Linked DNA regions of Homo sapiens: all the other regions are linked to region 4. The links come from fine-mapping of genetic effects on gene expression. A gene starts in region 4. Each other region holds a variant in brackets. All regions are shown on one strand. Distances are between the middles of the regions. Region 1 holds the start of CRYAB (crystallin alpha B). Region 2 overlaps PPP2R1B (protein phosphatase 2 scaffold subunit Abeta). Region 3 overlaps SIK2 (salt inducible kinase 2). Region 4 holds the start of PPP2R1B (protein phosphatase 2 scaffold subunit Abeta). Region 5 has its middle 57 kb from the start of LINC02764.

Region 1 (5,103 bases), 150 kb before region 4:
GCTTGAGGCCAGAAGTTCAAGACTAGCCTGGACAACATGGCGAAACCCAGTCTCTACAAAAAATTAGCCAGGTGTTGTGGCGCATGCCTGTAGCCTCAGTTACTCAGGAGGTTGAGGTGGGAGGATTGCTTGAGCCCAGGAGGAGGAGGTTGCAGTGAGGGGAGATGACACCACTGTACACCCAGCCTCGGTGACAGAGAGAGACTTTGTCTTAAAAAAAAAAAAAAGAACTAGGCATGTTTAGCTGGGAAAGGGAAGCCTCAGGAAGACAGGATGGTTATCTTTAAATATCAGAAGGATTTTCAGTGAAAAAACCATTGTGTTTGTTTTCCAGAGAAGTTACTGAAATGCAGATTTTGATTCAACAAAAGGAGGAATTTATAACGGTTAAGTCAGTTAAGACCAAAAAGAAAATGGAAGGCCAGGTACAGAGGCTCACACCTGTAATCCCAGTACTGTGGCAGACCAAGGATAGAGGATTGCTTGAGTCCAGGAGTTCAAGACCAGCCTGGACAACAAGGCGAGACCTCATCTCCAGAAAAAGTAAAAAATTAGCCAGGCGTGGTGGCACACACCTGTAGTCCCAGCTACTCAGGAGGCTGAGGCAGGAGGATTGCTTGAGCAAGGGAGGTTGAGGCTGCAGTGAGCCATGATCATGCCACTGCACTCCATCCTGAGCAACAGAACAAGACCCTGTCTAAAAAAGAAAAGAAAGAACATGGAAACGACTACCGTGAGAAGTTCTAAGTTGTCTGTTATTCAGAATGTCCCCGAATAAGTTGATTAATAACTTTAAAAGCATTTGAATGGAGAGGGGATTTGGACTAAATCAGAAGTTTTCAAATTTCTTATAGCTAGGAAACCCTTTCCTTTAAATAAAGCTCAGTTACAAAACATATCAATGTGAAGCTATTTTGGTTGAAGTCTAAGTAGAATCCTTTTCTTATTATTTTTCTTCTCAACTAGATTCTGGAAAGTTGACAATAAAAGCTAATAGTTTTTATAATTTATATTTACAATGTATATCCCCCAAGGTGTATTACATGAGGTTTGATAAATATTTACTGAATGAATGAATGAACAGTTAAATATGTCAAATGTTATTTCTCTGGGGCATGCTTTCATTTTTAATAGACAGCAATCTTTTAACCAAAAGTCGAATTCCTCAAGTGAGTTCTGTTATCCTGGAGGTCCACAGATCCCTAAGGGGGGTATGTGAATGGGTCTTAAGAGTTGTGGGAACCTATTCAAATTGTATTGCCAAATTTGGGAGCATATGTATTTTTCTGGTAAGAGCAGCTATAGCTTTTGTCAGATTTTCAGAAGGGTCTATAACTCCCAAAAGTTAAGAAACAACCACTTAATTTAATTCAATTCAATTTAATTTTTTTGAGGCAGGGTCTCACTCTGTCACCCAGGCTGGAGTGCAGTGGCGCAATCTCAGCTCACTGCAGCTTCAACCTCCCTAGCTCATCCTCCCACCTCAGCCTCCCAAGTAGCTGGGACTACAGGCATGCACCACCATGCCTGGCTAATTTTTATTTTTTTGTAGAGACAAGGTTGCACTCTATTGCCCAGGCTGGTCTCTTACTCTTGGGCTCAAGTGATCCTCCTGCCTCGGCCTCCCAAAGTACTGGGATTACAGGTGTGAGCTGCTGCACCCAGCCAAGAAACAACTGCTTTAATGGAAGAATTGTAGGTATCTACCACAGCCTAATGAAATATGTATTTGGAGGCAGGAAGGTCTTTTGGACACTTCCCCCAAATCATGTAGCTGGATGTTCTCTTGATTGCAGAGAATAACTGAGGGGACAGACCTCAGGCTTTCCTGAATACACCGTACCCCCAGAGGATGGGAAGGTAATGGGGTTCCGTGATAATTGGAGAGGCTTTGTGTCTGTGCCCTGTGTATGCATACTCAGGCTCTCAAAATCAGTGACCATTTAAGTGGACAGACCTTAGTACATGAAAACAAAGTATTCACTCCAGGACTTTAGGCAACTCTCACCAGCCAAAAACCATTTTCCCAGCCCCTACCCAAAAAGGGCCAGACAGTCTGGAGACCCTTGTTTTTGTGTCTCTAATCACCAGCTCAGACAGTGCCCTCTGGGCTGTTTGGATGGCATATCCCTTTTCCCTCCCAGGATCACTCTCTCTTTTGTTGCATTGTGAGAAAATTATGGCTAGGAATTTGATCTGGAGCCAGAGTCAGCTTCCGGGTGTGATCTCAGCATCCAAGTGCGAGCTCAGGGTCCTATGACGTTGGGCACATCAAACTGAGGAGCTTTTTGTCTAGCTGGCTGTGACCTCCTCCCTCCCTCCCCATCCCAGCTTCCCGGCCACAGAATAGGGAGCAGTACAAACAAGG[C/T]CCTGAGATTTGGGTTTATTCAGCTCCACCCAAAACTAAACCAAGGCTATGACATGTCCCATGGGACCAAACCATACATTGTGGACCATGCACCTTTCCCTTCCCCCAAGGATGCTGCTACCTCTGGAGTGGTGGGCAGCTGCCCATATCACCTTGGGAGGTAGAGAGGGATTTGCTGGGTGCTGGGTCTGTGGCAATCAGGGCTCAACTATGGCTGCCTCCTCCTCTTCCTCTGGATCAGGAGGCGCAGGGAGCAGGGAGATGTAGACCTCATTGACCTCTGTGTCCAAATGTCGGCCACCCCGAGGTGCTTCCAGGTTTAAGATGCCATCATGGGAGAGAGCAGCTCGGACTCGCCAGGGGTCGACATCAGCAGGCAGGACATAGGTGCGGCAGAACTCTCGGGACACGAAGCCGTGGCGGTCCAGGCGCTGGGGGTGCCGGGCAGACACCTCCAGCAGGTTATCCACAGTCCTCACAGTCACCTCGTCTGGGGTAAAGTGGCTCACATCCAGAAATGCCTGGAACTTGCCCTCACTGAGCCTAAGCTCGGAGGCCCCTGCCCTGCTGCCCTCCCCAGCTGGGGCGGCCCGAGGCCGGACATAGTAGCCATGGTAGAGTGTGGGGGTCAGGATCTCTTCTGGCAGGAGGCCTAAAGGGCAGAGAGAAGGCAAGAGGCAGGATGAGGGAGGATGAGGCTGGCACAGGGGCGAAATGGGAAATCTGGAGAGGAGGGATTGGGAAGAGCAAGAGGGGAGTCAGGAGGAGTAGGGAACGGGAGGGAGGCCACACTGTAGCTAGGAGGAGAAGGCAGCTCGGAAGAGGGGAAAGAGAACGGAAAGGAAAGGGAGGAGGAGGAGGAGAAGGAGGAGGAGGGGGAGGAGGAGGAGGCACCAAACGGCCTGGGTGGATAGAAGGGGGACAAGGAGGCACACCCAGGCCGGCAAAGAGCAGGTATCAGCACTGCAAGCACCAAGTGTGTCTTGAGGTCAGCAGGAATGGGAAAGATCTCTGCTTGGAGGGGATGAGGGGTAGTCTGGGGTGGGGGGTGGCTGGTCCCAGGAGATCAGTTAAGCCCAGAGTGGGGTGGAGGCCAGCAACGTTGGGAGGTCAGCCCAGAATTTCAGGGGGTGGGGGTGGGGGGCAAGGGGGTGGTGTCTGTGCCATACCTTCTCCGAAGCGCTGCTCACCCAGGCGGCTCGGGTTGGCAAATTCGTACTCGGCGGTGGCCGGGTGGGCATGTGGCACTGAGCGGCCCGACATGGCTGCAGATGCAGCAGAAGCCCTGGTCCGAGGTGCAGCCCCAACAGGCGCAGCGCGACCCCTCCAGCTGCCCGGAGAGCCAGGGCTCGATAGGAGGTGGGGGCGGGGTCGACACCACCCAAAATAGTGCCGAGCCTCTTGGGGGGGGAGGGGCTGGGAGTGGGGGCCCTGAGTGAGAGCAACGAGGGTGTGACCAGCGCCGCCCGGACCCCTAGTCCCCTCCCCCGCACACTCTTCAGCTGTCGCAGGGGGCCTGAGAGGACAGCTGAGGGTCCTGGCTGGGAACGAGCTGGGGAGGGGGAGCTGGTGGTGCCTGGGGCATGAAGAGGCCTCGCTGAGACCCTCACAAACGGTTTGCACGTTTCCACACCTCATTTTCTCCTCTTCGGTGGCAGGCACTGTGCACCCAATTCCTAAAGCACTCCTGGATTTAATGTTCTGAGAGCCACATAGAACGAAAGATGCAAGAAATCTGTTTGCTCTTTTTTCAGGGGGTGGGGTCTTTCTGCCCAGATGTGGGATCCTCTCCTAAACCCAGGTCAACCCAGGGCACGAGGCAGATGGCTGGTGCTGACATGTTGACCATCACTGCTCTCTTCCAAGGACTCACAAAGAGTTAATGTCCCTGGGGCTCAGCCTAGGAAGATTCCAGTCCCTGCCCAGGCCCAAGATAGTTGCTGGCCTGATTCCCCTGGCATTCAGGACTGGAAAGGAGGAGGAGGGGCACACTACGCCGGCTCCCATCCTCCCCCCACCCCGCGTGCCTGCTTGGGATTCCTGACTCTGTACCAGCTTCAGAGAACAGGGGTGGGGGTGGGTGCCATTGGGTGTGGACAGAAAGCTAGTGAAACAAGACCATGACAAGTCACTGGCCGGCTCAGACGTGTTTGTGTCTCTCTTTTCTTAGCTCAGTGAGTACTGGGTATGTGTCACATTGCCAAATCCCGGATCACAAGTCTCCATGAACTGCTGGTGAGCTAGGATAATAAAACCCCTGACATCACCATTCCAGAAGCTTCACAAGACTGCATATATAAGGGGCTGGCTGTAGCTGCAGCTGAAGGAGCTGACCAGCCAGCTGACCCCTCACACTCACCTAGCCACCATGGACATCGCCATCCACCACCCCTGGATCCGCCGCCCCTTCTTTCCTTTCCACTCCCCCAGCCGCCTCTTTGACCAGTTCTTCGGAGAGCACCTGTTGGAGTCTGATCTTTTCCCGACGTCTACTTCCCTGAGTCCCTTCTACCTTCGGCCACCCTCCTTCCTGCGGGCACCCAGCTGGTTTGACACTGGACTCTCAGAGGTGAGTCTCCCCACAGCTAGGACGGGAGAGTCCTTACTGGAACCTCCTGGAAACTTCTCCATCCATTTTCCTTTCCTACCCTGCCTAAACCATTTTAGGCACATGTGTGTCCAAATGTGAAGAAAAATGAGGAGGTTGCTAGTGCCTTCCTCCCCCATCACCTGTT
Region 2 (5,103 bases), 30 kb after region 4:
AAGGGAAAAGTTCTCCTATCTTGATTTCACTGGAATATAGGCTTTAGGAGCTCTGTAAGGCTGGTATTTTTGTCTGTTTTATCTTCTACTGTATCGCCAGTGCCTGGAACAGTGTCTGGTGCACATAATAGGTGCTCAATAAAAATGTGTTCAATGGATGAATTTCTAAAATATCCTCCAATGTGTGCATGGAACAAATAATCAAAAGAACCAGACTGTGTCTTATTCTCCCACTGACAGAAAGATTTTCCTGCTTTCAGGAAACAAGCTTTATGTGGCCCTTTTCTGGTCCCCTGGCTTAGACTACAGTTCTGTGTGGATTTGTCTGATTGCTTCAGACATGTAATGTTGTTTTTCATCCTTGGCAGCTTACATCAGTTGTTTGTTTGATTAGAAAAATGAAGCAGACACACACACACACACACACACACACACACACACACACACACAAACATATAACCTATGCCAATAAAAATGTCTCAGCAACAGTGGAATTCACCTTGGTGTTTCTCTCTGTAATTTGTGTGGGGTTTACCCCTCACAGGTTTAAGAGACCAGGTCTTGTTTCTCTCTCTGTGCTACCAAGAAGATGTGAACCTGAGGATGCATCTTGTTTCATAAGAAGGAAGGCAGGTGAATATGTGGTTTCTAACGAGGTCTTGTTGAAATAACGGGCTGCCCTCAGCTCACAGAAATACCACAGCTCAGCCACTGTGATGCAGAGCCCCAGGGGTCTTTGCCAGACAACTTGTCCTGACTCAACAGAGACGGCAGCCTGACCTTTGAGCTGGCTTGTCCAGGCATTCAGGTTGCTTGCGTAGACTTCCAGGGAAGCAAGCCTGTCCTTCCTGACCCGGCGGTTAACCTGGTGCACTTTTGTTCCTTTGTTAACTGTTGTGTTGTCACTAAACTGAAAGGCTGGGGCTTGCCCTTAGACGTCACATTGGCTCTGTCCCTGTGGCGATGGCAGGGCAGGGTGGCCAAACAGGTCAGGTGCTTGTTCTGTCCTCTTGCCTTTTACTTAAATTCCTCTGACTTTTAAAAATGGTGACACTCTTATCGTAAAGCTTCTTATTTTTCTCCACTGCTTGGATATGAAACTGTAGAGGGAGAGGCCCTGTTGCCCAGTGTTCTCCTGGTTTAGCAGCTGAGGTGACTGCAGTCTGATGTGATGTAACTGTTTCCCTTTGATTCTCCAGTATTCCTGTTTCCATCCAGTTCCTTACTCTCCTCTTTCCTCTTCCCTCGCATGTCTCCCTCCAGTCCTCTGTACCTAGAATAGTCTCACTGTCCCCCGTTTGCCTCCACGAGCCTGCTGTTTCCAGGAAATTACATAACGTTCAGTTGGGATGGAAATCTTCCGGAGGACGAATAGAGTTTAATTACTCATTGCGTCGGAAAGCCAAGCCATTTCTGTCTCCAGAGTTGTTCTCTTAAACTGATATGAGTTCTGAAAGGAGCCAGGTCTTTCCTGTGGTTGGGGCTCTGGAGACCATCAGTGACCAGGATGTGGGGAACAGCCAGGTGGACACCAAAAGGCCCGATGGGGTGGCGCTTTCCAGGGCCCCGAGGGAAAGGCACCTCAGCACGACCCTGGGCTGCCCCAGCTTTCTCTGCCCAGTGCCCCATATACTTGTAGGCTGCTGCTGGACACCCAACTCTGCTGGCACAACTGAGGGCATCCTGGCTGGGAAGCACAGGTGGGCTTGGGAGGGATGTGCCCTGGTCAGGGACAGTTACAGCGCCACTGTCTGTGTCTCTAGTGGTGGCACAAAGGCTGAGGAAGCTAGAATTTCCTGTGAAGGACAGTGGAGAACCCAGTGTCCCTCGGGCTGACAAGAACCACTTCCCAAGACCCACAGTGCCTGGAGAGGACATGGGGAAGGTAAGTGCCCGGAAGCCTGGGGTCAAGTCCTGCCCTCAGGGCTGCGGGCAGCCAGGGTGGCATGGTGTGCAGGGAGCTGCCACAGGGTAGGCGGAGAAGCAGCACCTCTCACTTTGTCCCCAGGGGAAGAGTCCAATTTTAAGGGCCGGGAGTAGATGGTTAAAGCCTGTTGCTGGCTTACTTCATTCTGGGAATGCTTTCTGAGAGGTGGGTCGCCGGCCAGAGCTGTCACTCTTGTAGCTTGAGGCCCATCTCCTATCACCTCCCAGTCCAACAGCGAGGCCCATACAGAGGACACCAGTGGGGTTTGGTGAAGAATTGCTTGTAAAAAGGGGCTGTTCCCACTTTCCTCACATAATATAGAAGTGACTTGCCATAATTCCTCTCAGTTATTTCCATTCAAGATAAAAATAGTTGCAAGTTTCTCTGTAACAGCTCAGATGTTCTACAAGCCCCATTGGATGCCACTCTGTGTGGAAATGGTGTGAAAAGCCCCAGTTCAGCAGTCAGTGGGTGCCAGCCACTGCCCCAGGGCCATTCATTAGGAGGGCGATTTGTGGCTTACAGATACATTCAGAAAAGGAGAGCAGCAGGGCTTGGCTGCCTCGTGCGGATGCCAGACTGCGTTTAGTTCATGGGGAAAAATCTGACATTCTCACACCCATTCTAGTAGGTTCGCTTAGTGAAAATTCAATGAAGTAACATCAAAAAGGCTGCCTTTTAAGTCACATGGCTTTTCATTTTATGTGAACCGAAACCATGAAAACGTTTTTTGCCTTTTGTTGAGGTCCAGAATCGCAGTCACTCATCTTAGAACATTCTTGCCTTCCTGAGGGGCTGCACACTTGTCCGTGGGCAGCTCCAGCCGTTCCTGCAGTGGCCGCACAGTGAGAGGAAGGGCTGGGTGACCACTGTCCAGTTGGATTCCAGGGGTGGCCAGCCCTTGGAGTCCATGTCGTCTTCACAGAACTGGGCCTCAGGGAGGAGAGCTTGGCTGAAGGAGTGGGAGTGACAGTTACACATTTTTTAGGCCTAAACCACAGACTTCTTTGGGAAGAAAGGGGTTACGTCTTCCTACAAATTCAGAGCCAGCTGCTCATGCCATGAATGCGTGGTATGA[C/T]CCGATCTGAGTGTGGATCATTGAGGCGGCCCTCCCATGGCTGACCTGCTCAGCTCTGACAGGGCCCGGGCTGCCTCTGCTAGCCGAGGAGTTACTGAGAATAAGTTGCCGTTACTCGAGCCTTGGTCACTGCAGCACCTTGTCAGGCACTTCAAATCTCATGTCATCCTCACCCACCCTAGGTGGTAGGTGCTATCATTGTTTTTTGGTCCCTCATGAATCTCCTCCAACCCCTGGCATGTCTATTTGGGAATCTTTTTTCCAGGAAAGGAGGCCCAGTGGTGCTAGGCCTCTGAGGCTTCAGTTCATTTAACTCAGAAAAATCCCCCGCCCCATGACTCAGGGAGCCTTCCATGCATTTGTTTCACTTAAGGAAAATGACCCGAGGGTGAGATGGAAAGGGAATTGGCTGTTGCCAGGCAGAGCCCTGTGTGTCAGGGGCCAGCAGCCAAGTGAGTGATCCAGGAAGTCATCCAATTGCAACCAGAAATTGTTCTTAACCCCTCACTGTCTAGGGTGCGTAGTGGACTTGCCAATCTGTCCGAATGGGGTGAGCGTGAGCGCGCTGCTGTTGAGAGCCCTGGGAACTGTCAGTTCTCAGCCAGCCTCAGGGCCCTCAGGGAGCCATTGGACATCCCTGGGGCTGGGCCCGCCACTTGAAGAGAAAAGGGAAAGGGCGAGAGCCAGTCTCCCTTGGTGAAGAGCGCCTCCTTGGCACCCTTGAAGTCTGTGGAGGTGCCTCTGTGTTGGATGTCACATGTGTCCACCCAGGCAGGATCTGCCAGGGAGCAGCGAGGGTCACCTCCCACACCTTGCTGCCGCGGGTCCGGCAGCGGCTCACTCCTGGACGGGACACAGGGTGCCCCCGCTGAAGCTGCTGACGGGCCTTGTCAGGCAGGGGTTAACAGGGGATTTGTTTATTGAATCACCAAGTAGCTGTCACATGATTTTAATCAAAACACCATTTCCCTGACAACAGTGATGTCAGTCTTGTTATTGCAGGAAGGAGCAGCTGTGAGGGACATTCAGTCTCCATGCCGAGCCCAGGTTTGGAGACTAAAATCAAGTGAAGCATCCATAAATAATGGCTACAGACACTGCCTGACTGCGCCCACCCTCCTCCTCTTCCTTTTCTCTGCACACAGTCTGTCCTGTACACACACTGACCCGAGACCAGCCCCTGCGCCACGTCCCAGCTAAGACCATCTTCTGCCTTCCATGCCCCTTCTACTCTTGTTTCTGGTTTTTTCCTGCCTGCCTTATTTTCCCCAAACTCAGAGAGTCCCTTGGGCCCTGAGGGTCTCTGACTTGTGCCTTTCGATGCGGGTCTCTTCTCTGGATTTAATCAGCACCTGCTGGTGAACCAGGCTGTTCTGGGCCTGAGGCTGGAGCCATTCTGCAGCTCAGGAACCTCACTTGTCCTAGAGCCAGCCTCTAGCATCTAGCTGCATGTCCTGTTCCTCCCACAGAGTTAGGCTGGCAGGGCCTTCGCGCTGCCCTGGGGGGTCTCAAGGGCAGCTCTGAGGAGCTCTGCTGGGAGTGTGTGAAGGGGAGGAGCTCCTTAAGGGCCAACCTCTTGGCCAGCGGATTTTGTTCTCTTGAACCCAGAAAGACTACAGGAGATGTGAGTCCAGTCAAACTGAGGACTGATGACAAAGACCAAAGCCCAGGGATGTTCAGTCCCATCCCCAGTGGCTTCCAGCTAAGGCAATTGGACCTTGAAGTCCATGGGGAAGTCAGACGTAGGCTGGTGACAGGGCACACGGGAGCAGGTCCTTAGGCTGACCTCCTGTCAGTGCCCTCTCCACTGTGGGGCCTAGGGGCCGAGCTGTCCGCACAAAAAGACTCCCCCAGGCCTTCCAAGTCTTTTCCACACTGGAGCTTGACCTAACAGTTGGAGATAAAAAAGTCCTCCTACCTGTGACATAGATTCTCAGGGATGTTCTTATGTTTGTGGTACCCATGTCTGATGCCTAGAACTCATTTCCGAAAATTCAGAAATCCTGGGGCAGAGTTCCCAGTTCTTAGCCTGAAGCAGATGCTCAGAACAGCACAACCACCCTTAAGTCAGTGAAGACAGAGCTCACAGGCAAGAAGC
Region 3 (5,103 bases), 120 kb after region 4:
AAGGAAGCCCCAAGATGAAATTAATGACATACAATCTCTCACCGCAATTCTTGGCAAAACTGCAAACTGGGAGACTAGATTTCGCTGCTCTACCAATTTCTGTCATTCCTTACATTCCATAATCCTCACATATGAATGTCCCAACTGACTGAAAAAAATGGCTAAAAACTCAGAAGCAATTCATTTTGGTCATAACTTTTTCATTGCCAATTTCCCACAGATTTAGTGTATCTAATGACAAGACTTGAAGTTCTATGTGTTTTTTGTTATCTCAAGATTGATTACATTGTTTCACATATGTATGTGTATATATATGTATGTATATATGTAATATTTATCTTTTTTATTTCTGTATTTTTACACAGCGGATACTCAATAATTTTGACAGGTTTGTAAAGAAATTGTGTTTAGGTGGGATCTTAGAAGCACCGATGTATTATCTTCAATCATATAAAGTTATGTGAGATAAATATTTGTACAAAGAATTGACTCCTTGTTACAGCTTCTAATTATTCCTATGCAGCATTCATGCAAAGCTTTTGGAGTAGCAAATGACTTCCATTAAAATTATCAGCTCACCAAGAAAAAAGCTATAGAGCTTGCAAAGTCCTCCTGGCTGGAATAATGTATTTGCCACTGACAAAGCCAAATAGCAACTTACGCTGTAGCAAAATAATTAAAATGGAGTTCTTGCCATAGTGTAGGTGTTCAATGCATATCTGTTAAATGAATGAATGAATGTACAAACAATGGCTACCTATATACACATCAAGTGTAAGCATATTATTAAGTTCTGGGATACACGTGCAGGATGTGCAGGTTTGTTACACAGGTAAACGTGTGCCATGGTGGTTTGCCACACCTACCGACTCATCACCTAGGTATTAAGCCCTGCATGCATTAGCTATTTATCCTGATGTTCTCCCTCCCATCACCTCCCCTGACAGGCACCAGGGTGTGTGGTTCCCCGCCCTGTGTCTTTGTGTTCTCATTGTTCAGCTCCCACTTATAAGTGAGAACATGTGGTGTTTGGCTTTTTGTTCCGGCATTAGTTTGCTGAGGATAATGGCTTCCAGCTTCACCCATGTCCCTGCAAAGGACATGATCTCATTCTTGTTATGGCTGCAAAGTATTCCATGTACCATATTTTCTTTATCCAGTCTATCATAGATGGGTATTTAGGTTGATTCCATGTCTTTGTAAGCACATTATTTTACCTTAAAAAAACACAACTAAATACAAGCAAGTTTCCAATTCAAACTCAGAGTCTACCTAATTCCTACAGATTGCTACACTAATAACTGAAATTTAAATTACTTTTGGTTAATTTTACCTTAGTAAATTAAAGAACAATCTTCCTTTTATATGATATGTGAAATATTAAGCATCTCAGTAAAGAATATGTAGCTTGAGAAAACTTAATATATAACTCTAACGTGAAGTCAGATGTGCTCCTAAAAGACAGAGGTCCATTAAAAGTGGTAAAAATCATTTTTATTTTCATGTATAAAATCAAAAGATATAAAACATTACTTTTCCTCTATGCCAAAATTCAACAAAATAGTACTCTTTCTAGAAAACTCATGCCTACTAAGACCAACCGTATTTTTAGGACTTTGATTAAACATTAAAGTAGAGCTCACTTTGGTTTTAGCTCTATTGAATACAACTTTGCTTCACAAGTCTATTACTTTCATCTACCTTATATAACTTTATGAAAGTTATATATTTTTCCTATTTTCAACATAGAGTAACTTGGAAAAAACAAGCAACATAATCAATTCAAAGGATTTATATTTTGCTGTTTGAATTATAAGAGGTATGAATAGAAAAAATGGAAGAGGTTGAGAATGACTGTTTAAGATCAAAAAAATGTTTATATATTTTTAGATATTGATACCTAGGCCTTTACTTTCTCCAAACTAATAATTACGTCAAAGATTTTATAACTCTACTAGAGCATCATATCATTACAATTTCTGCATTGAGTGCACAATAAATATTTTTTAAATGACAGGCAAAGAAGCATTTGTGCTTTTTAGGGGAAAGTTATTGTCGTAAGAGCTTTTTCTTACTGACTTTTAATGCAGAGGTTGAAATTCTCCCTAAAGCTTTCAAAAAAAGCAAGTAGAATATATACCTACCAGTAATTAAATTTATGTTTTACTATGAAAAATCAGAGATTTTCTTCCGTTTTTTCAGAAAGTTCAAAATGGAGATGGCTTAATCAAGTCATGAGTTGAAATCTAGTTGCCCAGAGAAGCCAAAGGAAAAGATAATTGCTAAAGTTAAGATTTAAAATGTATCTAAATTAAGGATATTAAGCTGTATTTTAGTTGTTTAGCATATATGTACACCTACTAATCCAATGTTTTATGGGAGAAAGATCTACACAATCACAATCAAACAATAAAGCTTTCAGGACAAATGAACTGTCTATAGTTAATGCTGAGAAGACACTACTGAGTTTGCATATAACTCAAATTTGTGTTAATTAGTAAGCCACTAAACTATTTTTCTGCCTCTTTTTATTCCCTAGGTCAACTTCTGGATATGCAAATACTTATGAGAGCTCCTAGCACAATTAATTTTTTT[A/T]AAAAAATAGAGCTATTCTGGAGAAAAGATCTTGTTAGTTATGAGAAAGTGATGTTGAAAAAAGTATTTGCAGTATCTTCCTTCTGGACTCCCACCACCATCATGACATCACTGCCACCTATGCCATCACAGAGACTCTGTATTAGCACAATAACAGAAGTACAGACTTACATCTGCATTGTATGTTACCATTTATAGAATACTCTCACATACATTATCTTGCTTAATCCTCATGAATGAACAAATGAATGAATGTTCATTCCTTGTTAGGTTACCACAGCAAGCATTATTAGCCCCAAGTAGATAATGTAACTACCCAAGTACATAATAGAGCTGGATAATTACACAAGTCTCCTGGTACCTAATAAGTGACTTTTCCCTTATTAGGGAAAAAAGTATAAAAGTATTACTTTTATACTTTATAGTATAAAGTAAAAACTTTATACTATATTCAAGTACTGTAAGTAATATATTCAAATACCTTCATGTGGTTACCTTCATTTATAGTGAGATGTTACCTGATTCAGAGAAAATAATTTATCATGTATTTACAGTAACAATATATTATTTTAGGACACAGTGGTCACCAACTAAAGTGTACAGTGTTTGATTAGCAGATTCAAAGTCAGAGTATAGAGAGATACATGGAATATGTGCAAGGATCAACACAACGCTGTACTCACAGATGGAGAGACAAATGCACAGAAAAAAGAATGAAACTATGTGACACTATCTTAACCAGCTACAGTATGCTGAAATATAAGGGGCACTAGAACACTGGAATGACAAGCTACATATCAATTATAAAATATGTGTAGCCTGACAGAATTTAGGAAAGAGTAAAAAGTATTCATTTTGCTGACTAACAATTCAAGAACACATTGAGCAGGAGACCATAATTGGTAGGGAGACATATACTGCAGCAATAAGACACACTTGCCTTAGCTTCCTCTCTCGTTGGAGCTTCTCCAAAAGATCTACATGCTAACATGTCTCTAAGTTGAACTGTAGAGCTGTCTCATTTTTGTTCCAGATGAAAATACAGTACCTATTTTTTCCAGTAGGAAAAGCAGTGTATACTCATTGTGAAAAAATTTAAAACACAAGAACAAACATACAATGTACAAATGAAAGTTCCCCATAATCCCAACTCCATAGATACAACCACTGTACAGCTTGATTCATATTTTCTAAACTTTTTCACCAGTCTGTGAAAATATATATATATACATGAAATATATATATTTCATGTATAAATATATTTACAGTATATATCAATAGGAGCCCATATTATATGCTATGGTCTTGTTTGTGTTTCCCCAAAATTAATACGTTGAAATCTAATCCCTGATGTGATATATTAGGAGGTGTGGCCTTTGGGAGATGATTAGGTCATGAGGGCACTGTTCAGGATTAGTGCCCATTAAAAGAGACCCAAGAGAGCTAACTTGTCCCCTCACCGTGTGAGGATGCAGTGAGAAGGTGCCATCTGAGAAAGTGGGTCCTTACCAGACACCATTGGCACCTTGATCTAGGATTTCCAAGCCTCCAGAACTGCGAGAAATAAATTTCTGTTGCTTATGTTACCCAGTTTAAGGTATTTTGTTATAGCAGCTCAAGAGAACTAAGGCATTAAAATAAACTGCTTTAAATAGTAAATAGTAATAATATATTTAAAAACCCAAATGAAATCATACCATGCATAGTATTCTACAACTATGTTTTAAAATCTCTTAATTACTTATTTTTATTTTTTCTTTATTTTTTCTTTTTTTGACTGCAAGCTCATCCTTAAACAACTTATTTTTTAACATTACAGATTCCCTAATTCCAAGGGTAATTCTTTTTCCAGCTGCATTTGATTTAGAAAGAGAAATTTCATTTACTATATGATAAAAATGGAATACTCCATTTTTGAGACTGCAGACTTATTTTCATCTATAAATAGAAAAAAAGTAAAAAAACCATCTTCATGACAAAAAAGGAGGTTTTTCTTTTTCTTTTTTTTTGAGACAGAGTCTCGCACTGTCACCCAGGCTGGAGTGCAGTGGCACAATCTCAGCTCACTGCAAGCTCCGCCTCCCAGGTTCATGCCATTCTCCTGCCTCAGCCTCCCAAGTAGCTGGGACTACAGGTGCCTGCCACCACGCCCGGCTAATAATGTTTTGTATTTTTAGTAGAGATGGGGTTTCACCGTGTTAGCCAGGATGGTCTCGATCTCCTGACCTCGTGATCTACCTGCCTCAGCCTCCCAAAGTGCTGGGATTACAGGCTGTGAGCCACCGTGTTCAGCCTTTTTTTTTTTTTTTTTTTTCGAGATGGGGGTCTCCCTCTGCCACCCAGGCTAGAGTGCAGTGATGTGACTATGGCCACTGCAGTCTCAATGCCAACATGCCTGGCGTATTTTTTGTATTTTTTGTAGATGTGGGATTTCGCCATGTTGCCCAGTCTGGAAAAAAGGGGTATTTTGGCTAACTGTATCTAAATCTAGTACTCAAATAAAAAAAT
Region 4 (5,103 bases):
GTGCACACCACCACGTCCTGCTAAGTTTTTTTTTTTTTTTTTTTAGAGATGGGGTTTTGCTATGCTGCCCATGGCTGGTCTTGAACCCGTGAGCTCAAGTGATCCATCATGTGCACCACTGCCCCAGGTGACTTTTTACATAAAGTATAAGAAAACAGATTCCTCCTCTCAATGCCTACAGGAATCCCCTCTGATCTTCTAACTGGTAAAGTACTAAGTTAAAAAAACCTCTTAGCCCTCTGTCTCTCCAAGTTGGGTAGTATTAAATATATGAATCCATTTTTAGCCTGGGCAGCATGGTGAGACTCTGTCTCCATACACACACACACACACACACACACACGCACACACACACACGAAGCTGGATGTGGTGGCACATGCCTATAGTCCTAGCTACTCAGGAGGCTGAGGCTGGAGGATTGCTTGAGTCCAGGAGTTTAAGGTTACAGTGAGCTATGATTGTGCCACTGCACTCCAGCCTGGGAAACGCAGCAAGACCCTGTTTGTTAAACACACACACACACACACACAACACAATAATTTTTTAAAATCCTGAAAACTCTCAGTTAAGTCATTATTATTATTATTTTAGAGATGGGGGTCTTGCTGTGTTGTCTAGGATGGTCATGAACCCCTAGGCTCAAGTGATCCTCCCACCTCAGCCTCCCAAGTAACTGGGAAGACAGGCACGCGTTACCATGTTTAGCTAAATTGTTTTTATTATGCTGTGGTTATTTAAATTTACGAATATAAAGTAGGAAAAATGTGCTTTTATTTCTAGTTCTTACACAGCTAAAAAAAAACCACAACAAATTTACAAATTAAATACAAATGAAACCACAAAATGAATACTATTCAATTAAAAATATTATAGTAATTTAACGTGACAAATGATGTATTTTGCTAAAACTGTCATCCGTCGTATTGTTACTATGGTGTTGCCTGCTATAGCTCAGCTTCTTTTGTGTTCAACATGCCTATGCCACCAAGTGACTCCTGATATCTTAATTTTCTCACCATTTTTCTGTTACAACTACCAAATAGTGCAATCTCATGATGCATTTGGCTTTCATTTTGTGCATGAAAGTATCATTGTCATTTTAAAACCACCTCTGTTCTTTTCTCATTATCCCAGAACAATAAAAGCAGCACTAAAACACACATGTAAATGTGGGTGCTGAAATTGTGTGGCAATACTTGGTTGTAAGGTGGTCACCCAAATAATTCAGAATATGCTTATACAAATCTAAAAAATATGAAAATGAAAATAAAATTAAAACCCTAGAGAATACATTCGCAGACATAATTTGAGAAAAACTGTTCAGGTCTGCTGGTTCCCAAACTTTCATTACTATCAAAGGCTCTAGCTATTGTGCTTACTTCCAAGAACCCCATTTATTTATTTATTTATTTATTTATTTATTTATTTATTTATTCATTATTTCATTCATTCATTCAAAGGCTCTATTGTGCTTACTTCCAAGAACGCTATTTATTTATTTATTTATTTTAGAGACGGGGTCTCACTCTGCCGCCCAGATTGGAGTACAGTGGTGCGATCCTGGCTCACTGCAACCTCTGCCTCCCGGGCTCAAGCGATTCTCATGTCAGCCTCCCGAGTAGCTGGGACTACAGGCTCCCGTCACCAGCCCAGCTAATTTTTGTATTTTTTAGTGGAGACAGGGTTTCACCAAGTTGGCCAGGCTGGTCTCGAACTCCTGGCCTCAAGTGATCCGCCCGCCTCGGCCTCAGAATCCCATGTTTTAAAAAAGTTTGTCTCCTACACTGCATTTATAGTTTTATTAATCAGGCACATAGAATTACCATTTCGGAGCTTGTGATCACCATATGTAGTTATCACTCCAAGCTGCTTAAATTCCAGTCTAAAACAAACAAAACATTCTAATTATTCTGTGCTACCCTGACAGGGGTAAGTGAAAACTTTCCATTCAGGTTTGTAAGAACGAGCTCCCAGACCTCCACCTCTTCCCCTTGCTGCCTCTGAGGACTCTTGGAGGTCTAGGGAGGCCAGTTTGGGTTTTCTTGCTCAAGAAAGTAGCCACCCCACCCAATTTGGAAGGATTAAAGCTTGTCCTAGTTTTGCTTCATTGTTGTACTTCTAGCATGCTAAAGAGCTAAAAAATGGGAGGAAGAAAATACAACAGAAGGCACCATTCCAGTACCAAACTGAAAAGAAACACAAAAACAAGAGAGCAGCATGTTTTTAACAGCTTGCGTGGAAAAAATATTGACTGGGGAGTTTGGACAGCACTGTTCATTTTCTCTCACCGCCCGCGTTATTTGTCTTACGGAGCAGGAGCCAGATACCATTCTGGAGAAAGAGCCGCGGGAAGAGGTGGAGGGGTTCTGTGGAAGTTTGAGTCTGAGCGGAGAAATTAGGGCTGGAGATCCAGTGGCTCAGGGCCAGGAAGAAGTCAGGGGAGGTGCTAAAGCCTTTTTCCTCCTGGCCTCGGGCACTCTCTTTGGTCCGCCTGAGTCTTAAGAGGGCACAGCGCAGATCATTCAGGTAGGTTCCTGGCTCCTTCAGACTACAACGAGCTGGATGAATCCCTGTCCCTGTTTCTTTCGGCTGGGGAAAGGACGCAGGGGTTCCATTCGCTTTCTTAGCCCACCCGTCTTCTTGAGTTCAGACCTACAACTCCTGCAGTGGGGGTCAGAAGGGAGCCTTAATCATCGGGACAGAAACGCGGCTCCCCAACTTCGGCTAAACCAGCGTGGCGGCCTTCGTCCCTACTGCCTGGGCGCGGGGCGGGGCCTGGGCGCGGGGCGGGAGGCGGTGACCAGCAGCAGGAGGAGAAAGAACATGGCGGGCGCATCAGAGCTCGGGACCGGCCCAGGAGCAGCGGGTGGAGATGGAGATGATTCGCTATACCCGATCGCGGTTTTAATCGACGAGCTCCGCAATGAAGACGTGCAGGTACTGGACTGAGGCCGGGGACCCGAGGCGAGACCGGCTGGTCGCGTGGTAGAGAAGGGGGAAGGCCTGCGTCGCGGTGGGGGTGGCCGAGGTACTGAATGAGTCGGACTCGTAGCAGAAACTTGAAGGGGAGGCGGGGAATGCTCCGCGAGGGGCTGTGGTGACACGCCCCGACCCTCCCGGGTACCTCTCTAGTAACCTTGCTTCGGACCCCCTGAGGCGTCCGCCCGGAGCCTTGCCCTTCCCGGGCGGTTGTCGGGGAACCCGCTTCCCGCCTGGGCGCCCCATCCGGGCCGTGAGGTGGCCGCGTCTCTTGGGCGAGGGAGCAGGAGAAGCGCGGTGCCAGGCCGAGACGGGGCTGGAGCGGCTGAGGGGCGCAGGATGCCCAGAAGCCCTTTGAAGTGCCCCTGGATCCCTTCATCTCGGCTTGGAACTGGCTCGGCTTGTTGGGTAGAAAGCGGGGGTGGGATGGCCGATTAATCTGGACGAGTAGTGTATCCGCTCTGTGGGAACTTTTCTTTGAAACCACAGGTGTTGTATTCAACCGTTTCACCTGCTTCACCACTGCCAAAGTGCTCTCTTTTTAAAATTATCTTACTTCCTAGGTGTTGTATTGTCTTTCCTTCATTTCTCTTCCGGTCCCTTCTGAGTGTTTCTCCTGGGAAATCCTCCGCCGGCTAGTGAGGCCGAGTTACACTTCTTTTTGGAAGTCCTTATGAGCTTCCTTAACAGTAAAATCTAAATGAAAGGTTATCTTCATTCTTACCCCTGTGTCATAATTTCACCTGTTAGCACCTTTTGTCTTTTGATCTAAATTCAGCCGTTTCTTTACATTGTTCTTCTTTCTACTTTCTTTTCTGAAGCTCCGACTCAACAGTATTAAGAAGTTATCAACAATTGCCCTAGCACTTGGAGTAGAAAGGACCCGAAGTGAATTGTTGCCATTTCTTACAGGTATGTGAATCTTTGTTTAAAGAAAGGTAGGGACATTCCATTTTCCAGTAGCTTTCAACACTGACTTTTTTAGAGTTTATTACCCACATTAAAATGAGCCAGGTGTTTTTTGTGCAAAAGAAACAGAACAGAGTATATTGTTAGTTGTGGCTAGATATATTCAAACATCAACCATTTAGCTATTGAAAGTAATTGATACGGGAGTATGAATTTCTAATTCGTTGTGCAAAGCAGATACAGGAAGACGGTTGAGAAGAAAGAAAATGCTGTTAGGATTTTGACTGGGTCACCTTCCTGGTCGCATAGTGAATCTGTTCCTAGTTTTGTGTCAGTGTCCAGCTGTGGGAGAGCTATCCATGTTGATGAGTCCTGTTGTTGTCACTTCCAGATACAATTTATGATGAAGATGAGGTACTATTAGCTCTTGCTGAGCAGCTGGGAAATTTCACTGGCCTAGTGGGAGGTCCTGACTTTGCCCACTGTCTGCTGGTGAGTATTTATAAGCTGCCTACCCTCCTTCTACAACTTTTGCAGTATAAATGATACATTGTTTGGTGATAGACACACTGCAGCATTTTTTATGCAGATCTTTTTATGGGCAGATAGTCATAATGTTAGTCATTGAGAGAATAAGTACTGTAGGCACTTTGCACTCAACTCCTTTTTTTTTTTTCTGTAAATAAGAGAACTTCGTCCTCCTTTTCTGCGTCTGTAGACTTATTAGTTTAGATGTAGGGAGAAAAAGGGTTTGATTGTTTTTATGGTTCCCCCGCGCGATGGTGGAAGTTTTAATTCTCACCTAGCAGCATTTTGTCTTTGTCAGTTTAACTTTTGCTTCTGACTTTGTGAGTTTGATGAATTTAGTTCAATTTAATTGACATTTATTGAGAGTCTACTTTATCAGACACATCATAGTTTACAATGTTAATGTTGAAGAAGACCAATGTGAGGGGGCTTGGTGGCACAAGCCTGTAGTACCAGCTACTCAGGAGGCTGAGACTGGAGGATCACTTGAGCCCAGGAGTTTGAATCCAGCCTGGGCAACATAGTGAGACCCCCATCTCTTAAAAAAAAAAAAAGACCACCAAAATGAATCTAATGAGGTCACTGCCTTTATGTGTCAGCAAATAATTACCGTGCAGTCGTAAATGGAAAGATATAAGTACCCACAAAATACCCACGTAATAGAAGGGAGAAAGGGATTCACTCCG
Region 5 (5,103 bases), 850 kb before region 4:
GCACAACAGCATGGATGAACCTTAAAGACATAATGTTGAATGAACAAAAGCCAGACACAAGAATTTATACTATATGAGTCCATTCATATGAAACTGCAGAAAAAAAAATCTCACTACCATGATAGAAGTGAGTGATGGGCTTGGGCCTGGGGAGTGGGGTAGAATGGACTGAGAAACGGACAAGAGGAAGCCCTCCCAGGAGGCTTGATGTGTTGTTCAACTTGACCTGGGTTGAACTTGAGCTCTGTAGCTCTCTACTGTGCTTGGGAAGGTAGGTGCCCCCCAGCCCCATCAACCCTCCCTCTGACAGGGTAGCTGGCTGACTGAGTGTCCCATTTGCCTCAAGAAAGAGCAGATGACTCAGAATAAACAGGACTGGTCTTGTTCAGGTACACTCCTTTTTGTGTGTCCTAGGTAGGATTTTCTGTGTCCTAGGTAGGGGATTATCAGACGTCTTCCTATAGAAGCACTCATTGAGGCTGTATATGTGAGATTAGTGTACAGTTTCCTCTGTGCAGGTTATGTCTGAATTTAAAAGTTTTCAAAAAGACAGACATTAGAACTCCAAAAACTAAAACAAGAGTAAAAAGGATATAGACAGAGTAGCAAATACTAAAGCTGACAGAGAAAGAGAAAACTGCAGTGTGATTGCCAGTAAACCCAGAAGGGGCTGAAAAACACTAAAGCGTGCTACCTAATTACTCTTTCACTCCAGAAATGTGATCCATGGAGTCTGTCAGGACCAGAGATTTCACATCTCACTACAAAGACCCAGAGCAAGTTGCCTGCAATGGAAAGATACTTTAAGAGAAGAAAAGTCATTTTCTGTCCTTAAACAGGAAGGAACAAAAGATTATCTCTCCTGTCTGAACTGAGGGGTTATTTGAGAAAAACACTCAGGAATTACCCATGGGTAGGCTTTTAGGAAATTAAAATCTGCAAATAAGCTGGGCACAGTGGCTCACACCTATAATCCCAGTGCTTTGGGAGGCCAAGGCGGGAGGATCATTTAAGGCCAGGAGTACAAGACCAGCCTGGGCAACATAGCAAGACCCCCATCCCTACAAAAAAAAAAAAAAAATTTTAATTGTCCAGGTGTGGTGGCATGTACCTGTAGTCCCAGCTACTTCAGAGGCTGAGATGGAAGGATCGTTTGAGCCCAGGAGTTCAAAGCTACAGTGAACTATGATCATACCACTGCACTCTAGCTTGGACAACAGAAAGAGCCCTTGTCTTTTTTAAAAATAAAAAAAATCTGGATACAAAGAAAAGGTTGTTTCTGTGTTTCCCACCTCTGAAGAAGGAATCTACTCTGGGAAATTTCCACTCCCTACAATAGGAGTAGTATCTGCTGGGGACAGGTGCGTGCACGGTCTGAGTCACCTCCAACTCTGCACATGTCTGGAGCCAGCACTGTGGGGGTGGGAGGACAGGAACCACATCTGTGTCTTCCGGGTATACCTGCCAAGCTTTCAACCAGTTTCGAGGTGCCCTCAAAGTCAGGGCCAGCCGTTTGGAAGCCTGGGCCATTGCACTGACCTTCCCTCCCCAGGTATTCTACTCCTCGGCAATGAGAGAACATATCAACTCATCCTGCTCTGGGGAGGTCCCAGGTCCCTCAGCAACCACCCCCTACAAATAAAGCCTTTCCTCTCCCGCAGAGAGCCAGGGAAGACAGGGTAGGACTTCTCACCCTCCTGGCCCCTCCATCCCAGATACCTTGGCTGCATCATTTCATTTTTCATTTTGTCTGGATTAATTTTGCATTGCTGCATGATTCACACTTCCTGTCTGGCTTCCAAAGCACATAACTAGAGGATCCCTCTGGAGAGGAATGCCGATTAATACCTTTAACATGCCTGCTTCTGATGGGGAGAGCAGTAAAAATACATATTTTCATATTACATCTATATTCATCTATATATTTTTAACATGTCATTGTGCCACTTTGTACAGAATTGTCATTTTAAGTGGTGATTTGGCCTCACTCCAGGGATTGATGCATCAGGGTCAGGTGGCCTCTGAGGCAGCTGTAATTTTTATGCTGAGCTCCCATCATAGGAGGAGTTAGCCTGGGGAGATTCACCACATTGCAGAGTGCTGAAGTGAGTGGTTCTCAACAGAAAGGGCACAGCTTTTAAAGAGAAGAAAAGTCTTGTCTTTTTCTCTGTTTTCTCAGAGAAGAAAGAATAAACCCTTGCCTGGACTGAGGGATTATTGCAGATGAGACTCAAAAAACATTTATATAACACCCCCAGCCAAAAGTCCCCAGGACACTGTTAATAGGAGTCAAAAGGCCAATGGAAATGTAGCCCTGGAGCATTTGTGCACCTGGAGGTCATT[C/T]AGGATTGAGGCCAAGGGTGTTTGTGCGCCCCTGGGGCCTGCAGGTGTGGTAACCCATACCCAGGTATCTACCAGCCAGCCCTTCCACCCCTAGGAAGAAAGGCTCCATGAAGTCAAAGTGAGAGAGGGAGAGTCCTCCAAGATCAGGAACTTCTCTTTGGGGCCAAATGAACTCCACCCAGAAGTGATGAAGAAAGGTAGGTAATGGATTGCTCAGACCACAGAACACCTGGCCTTCAAACCATGGGCTAAAGAAATCAGAATTGCGCTTTAAATTCTTCTGTAAAGGGGCATTTGCAGAACCACTGTCCTCTCCTCTGTATGAACATTGGGACCAGGATCCAGTTCCAGCTTTTCCAGGCTCCCGTCTCCCTCCCTCCTCCCTCCTTGCAGGCGCGTCCCCTCCCCTCCCCTCCCCCCTCCCACCCCCAACCCTGTGCTGCTGGACAACTGTTCCTTGCCCTGAGATCCTCTCCTATGGTAGAGCTTCCCTTCCTCCAAGTGCCTATTTAGAACCAGAAACAGAAATGGAGAAAAAAAAATCTTATTAAATATGTGTATTTCTGTTATTCCTTTTGGTGGGATAATCCCTAACAAACCGCAGCTGCAGAAGACTAACTGAGCAAATGATGGGAGGATATAAATATCTAGAATTACTGTATCTCAAATTCCGTTTTCCTGCTGCAGCCCCAAAGAGCCAGATTTAATTTTTAAAAGAGACTTCAGAGAGGAAGCCTAGGCTCCTAGCAAGGCTTTAGATACTTAATAAATGAAATAAGGCCCCTGTCGACAGAATTGAATGCGTATGTGTGCATCGGTGCACACTCGTGTCTGTGTGTGTCCACGTGCATGCATGTGTGTGTATTGGCAGGCAGGAAGAAGGTGGCTGCAGAGCCTGTGAAGATGAGCGTCAACCACCAAAAATTCTGATTTCCACACCCCTGATATAGGACACTTGTTTACATGAGAAGGTGAGAAGGGAAATTAAACAATGATTTTCAAATCCCTTAAGAGCTATTATGCAGCAAATATCATCCAGCTGTTCTCCACCTCCTGCCCCAGTTTCCCATCTGCTGCCTGTTTTAAGTGGCGCTTATGGGACAAGACCACTCACCACCTTTTGGTTGGCAAACTCCCGGGTATTTTGGCATGTGAGTTCTGTACAGACTGTCCCCTTGGAGATGGAGTTGGCAAGACATGGCCATTCCAAGTGGACTGGAATCCAAGTCTATACCATCTGGGTGGTAGGCTCTGCTCAGCGGGTACATGGACCTAAGCCAATATGAGCAGTGCATTGATACTCTCGGGGCACAGTGCCATGCTGCTGGTGCCAGATACCAGAATCACTCCCTGGATCCCCTGAGAGCAGTTAAGAAAAAATCAAGACTGGTGATTTGGAAGACCTCCCAGTAGGCATCTGGCCTCTAGACATGGAAACCAAATCAAATCTTGGGCTAGAAGAATATGGTACGCACATATGCATTTCATTCATCCATGCAACAGTTATTTACAGACCCCTGTTGGGGGCAGAGTTTCTATCCCAGCTTTCCAGCTTGGGCTTTATTGTTGCCTATGTTAGTTTGTTCTGCAGTCCACCCTAACACAGGGTAACTTAGCCTTAAAGGAAATGAGTAATTTCCTCTTCTGCTGGATAGAAAAGATTTCCACCCCCGTTGCCCTTTTTCAACTCCTGTGATAGACCTCCCTGCTCTCAGGTTTGCCTTCAGTTTTATTGGGCCACCTGGTTTTCAAGTGAAGGTGCTGCCTCCAGGGAGCCAGATACTGAGGGACTTAGAGCAGATGAATGTGACTTAGGAGGTAGATGGGACTAGGGACATGTTTTCCCTCCTCCTTGGTTCTGGTGCTACATCCGGCCAGGTAACACACACATGGAAAGTAACTATTTTGAATTCTGGTCCCAGAGCTGGAGGTTTACATGATCTGGAGACTTGGAGACCAAGAGAGATGCTGTATGTTTATTACCCCAGTTATCTCTCTCTCTGTAACTTTCATTCTACACCTTGGAGGGAGATATTTATTAGTCATGAGGTGGTCATACCATGCCAAATCTCACAGAGAATGAAGGTCCAGTCCCTGGCTCCATCTTACAACACTTTTTCACCATCTGTACTCTGAAACTTTGACACACATCCCAGAAATAGAAGAGGCTCAGTTCATCCCCTACTTCTATTGTTGCTCTCTCCTCCTTTGATGACAGATGTGTGTTAACCTGACTTGTTCTCTTATGAGTTCCTTGAAGGCTTCTTTGCTTATTCCCAAGTACTAGCACAGTGCTTTTCATATAAAGGGAACTCAGTACACAGTTGTCAAATGAGTGAATGGATGAATAGATTACAAAATGATTTACAGGTGATACTCTCACAGTGCTTTTGTTTAAAGAAATTGACAGGCCAGCTTTGCAAGAAAACCTACCCTTCTATTCTTCTAGGGTGAATGAGAGTAACTCTTATTTTGTATTAAAACCCCTTTTTTAAGTAAGAAAAGAAGGTAGATACATTTGAGCCTTGTTTGCAAAGCTGCTTTAAACCATTCCTCTGTAAACCAGTCCAAATAGAGTGCTTCTATCTAGGGAATAGAAAGGCCAATTAGAGGTCAATGGGCTCCCTCTTCCACGCCACTATGGAGACAAGTAACAGGTAGCCCAGTGTTACTTAAGCCACTGTGTCTGCACCTAATCACATACCCTACTCATTGTCCATGAATCCAACTCATCCCATCCCATATGTATCTGGCAAAGCA

Evidence for each region. PIP is the estimated chance that this variant, and not a neighbour inherited with it, causes the effect.
Region 1: its variant is fine-mapped to the expression of PPP2R1B in caudate (GTEx, PIP 0.99). The same link has a PIP of 0.9 or more in whole blood.
Region 2: its variant is fine-mapped to the expression of PPP2R1B in whole blood (TOPMed, PIP 0.96).
Region 3: its variant is fine-mapped to the expression of PPP2R1B in whole blood (TOPMed, PIP above 0.99).
Region 5: its variant is fine-mapped to the expression of PPP2R1B in putamen (GTEx, PIP 0.97). The same link has a PIP of 0.9 or more in nucleus accumbens.

The regions. Positions count from the first base shown.
Region 1 is chr11:111,911,358-111,916,460 of GRCh38, reverse strand. It overlaps CRYAB (crystallin alpha B), which reads left to right and starts at 4,691. Exons shown (of 3, transcript NM_001289808.2): 1 at 4,691-4,937. The coding sequence starts at 4,737. HSPB2 (heat shock protein family B (small) member 2) reads right to left here and starts at 3,727. Exons shown (of 2, transcript NM_001541.4): 1 at 3,538-3,727; 2 at 2,368-3,020. The coding sequence starts at 3,631. The coding sequence ends at 2,566. HSPB2-C11orf52 (HSPB2-C11orf52 readthrough (NMD candidate)) reads right to left here and starts at 3,725. Exons shown (of 5, transcript NR_037651.1): 1 at 3,538-3,725. RefSeq lists an enhancer at 2,323-2,976. The variant C/T (reference allele first, on the strand shown) is at 2,369.
Region 2 is chr11:111,734,230-111,739,332 of GRCh38, reverse strand. It overlaps PPP2R1B (protein phosphatase 2 scaffold subunit Abeta), which reads left to right. Exons shown (of 15, transcript NM_002716.5): 15 at 1-1,456. Among named protein-coding and RNA genes, the nearest start is that of PPP2R1B, 30 kb to the left of the region's middle. RefSeq lists an enhancer at 3,653-4,289. The variant C/T (reference allele first, on the strand shown) is at 3,006.
Region 3 is chr11:111,647,369-111,652,471 of GRCh38, reverse strand. All of the region lies in intron 3 of SIK2 (salt inducible kinase 2), which reads right to left. Among named protein-coding and RNA genes, the nearest start is that of SIK2, 47 kb to the right of the region's middle. The variant A/T (reference allele first, on the strand shown) is at 2,596.
Region 4 is chr11:111,764,083-111,769,185 of GRCh38, reverse strand. It overlaps PPP2R1B (protein phosphatase 2 scaffold subunit Abeta), which reads left to right and starts at 2,797. Exons shown (of 15, transcript NM_002716.5): 1 at 2,797-2,938; 2 at 3,802-3,892; 3 at 4,281-4,381. The coding sequence starts at 2,825. It also overlaps a transcript of ALG9 not described here. RefSeq lists enhancers at 2,732-2,781, 2,802-2,981, 2,868-3,771.
Region 5 is chr11:112,610,081-112,615,183 of GRCh38, reverse strand. No RefSeq gene overlaps it. Among named protein-coding and RNA genes, the nearest start is that of LINC02764, 57 kb to the right of the region's middle. The variant C/T (reference allele first, on the strand shown) is at 2,344.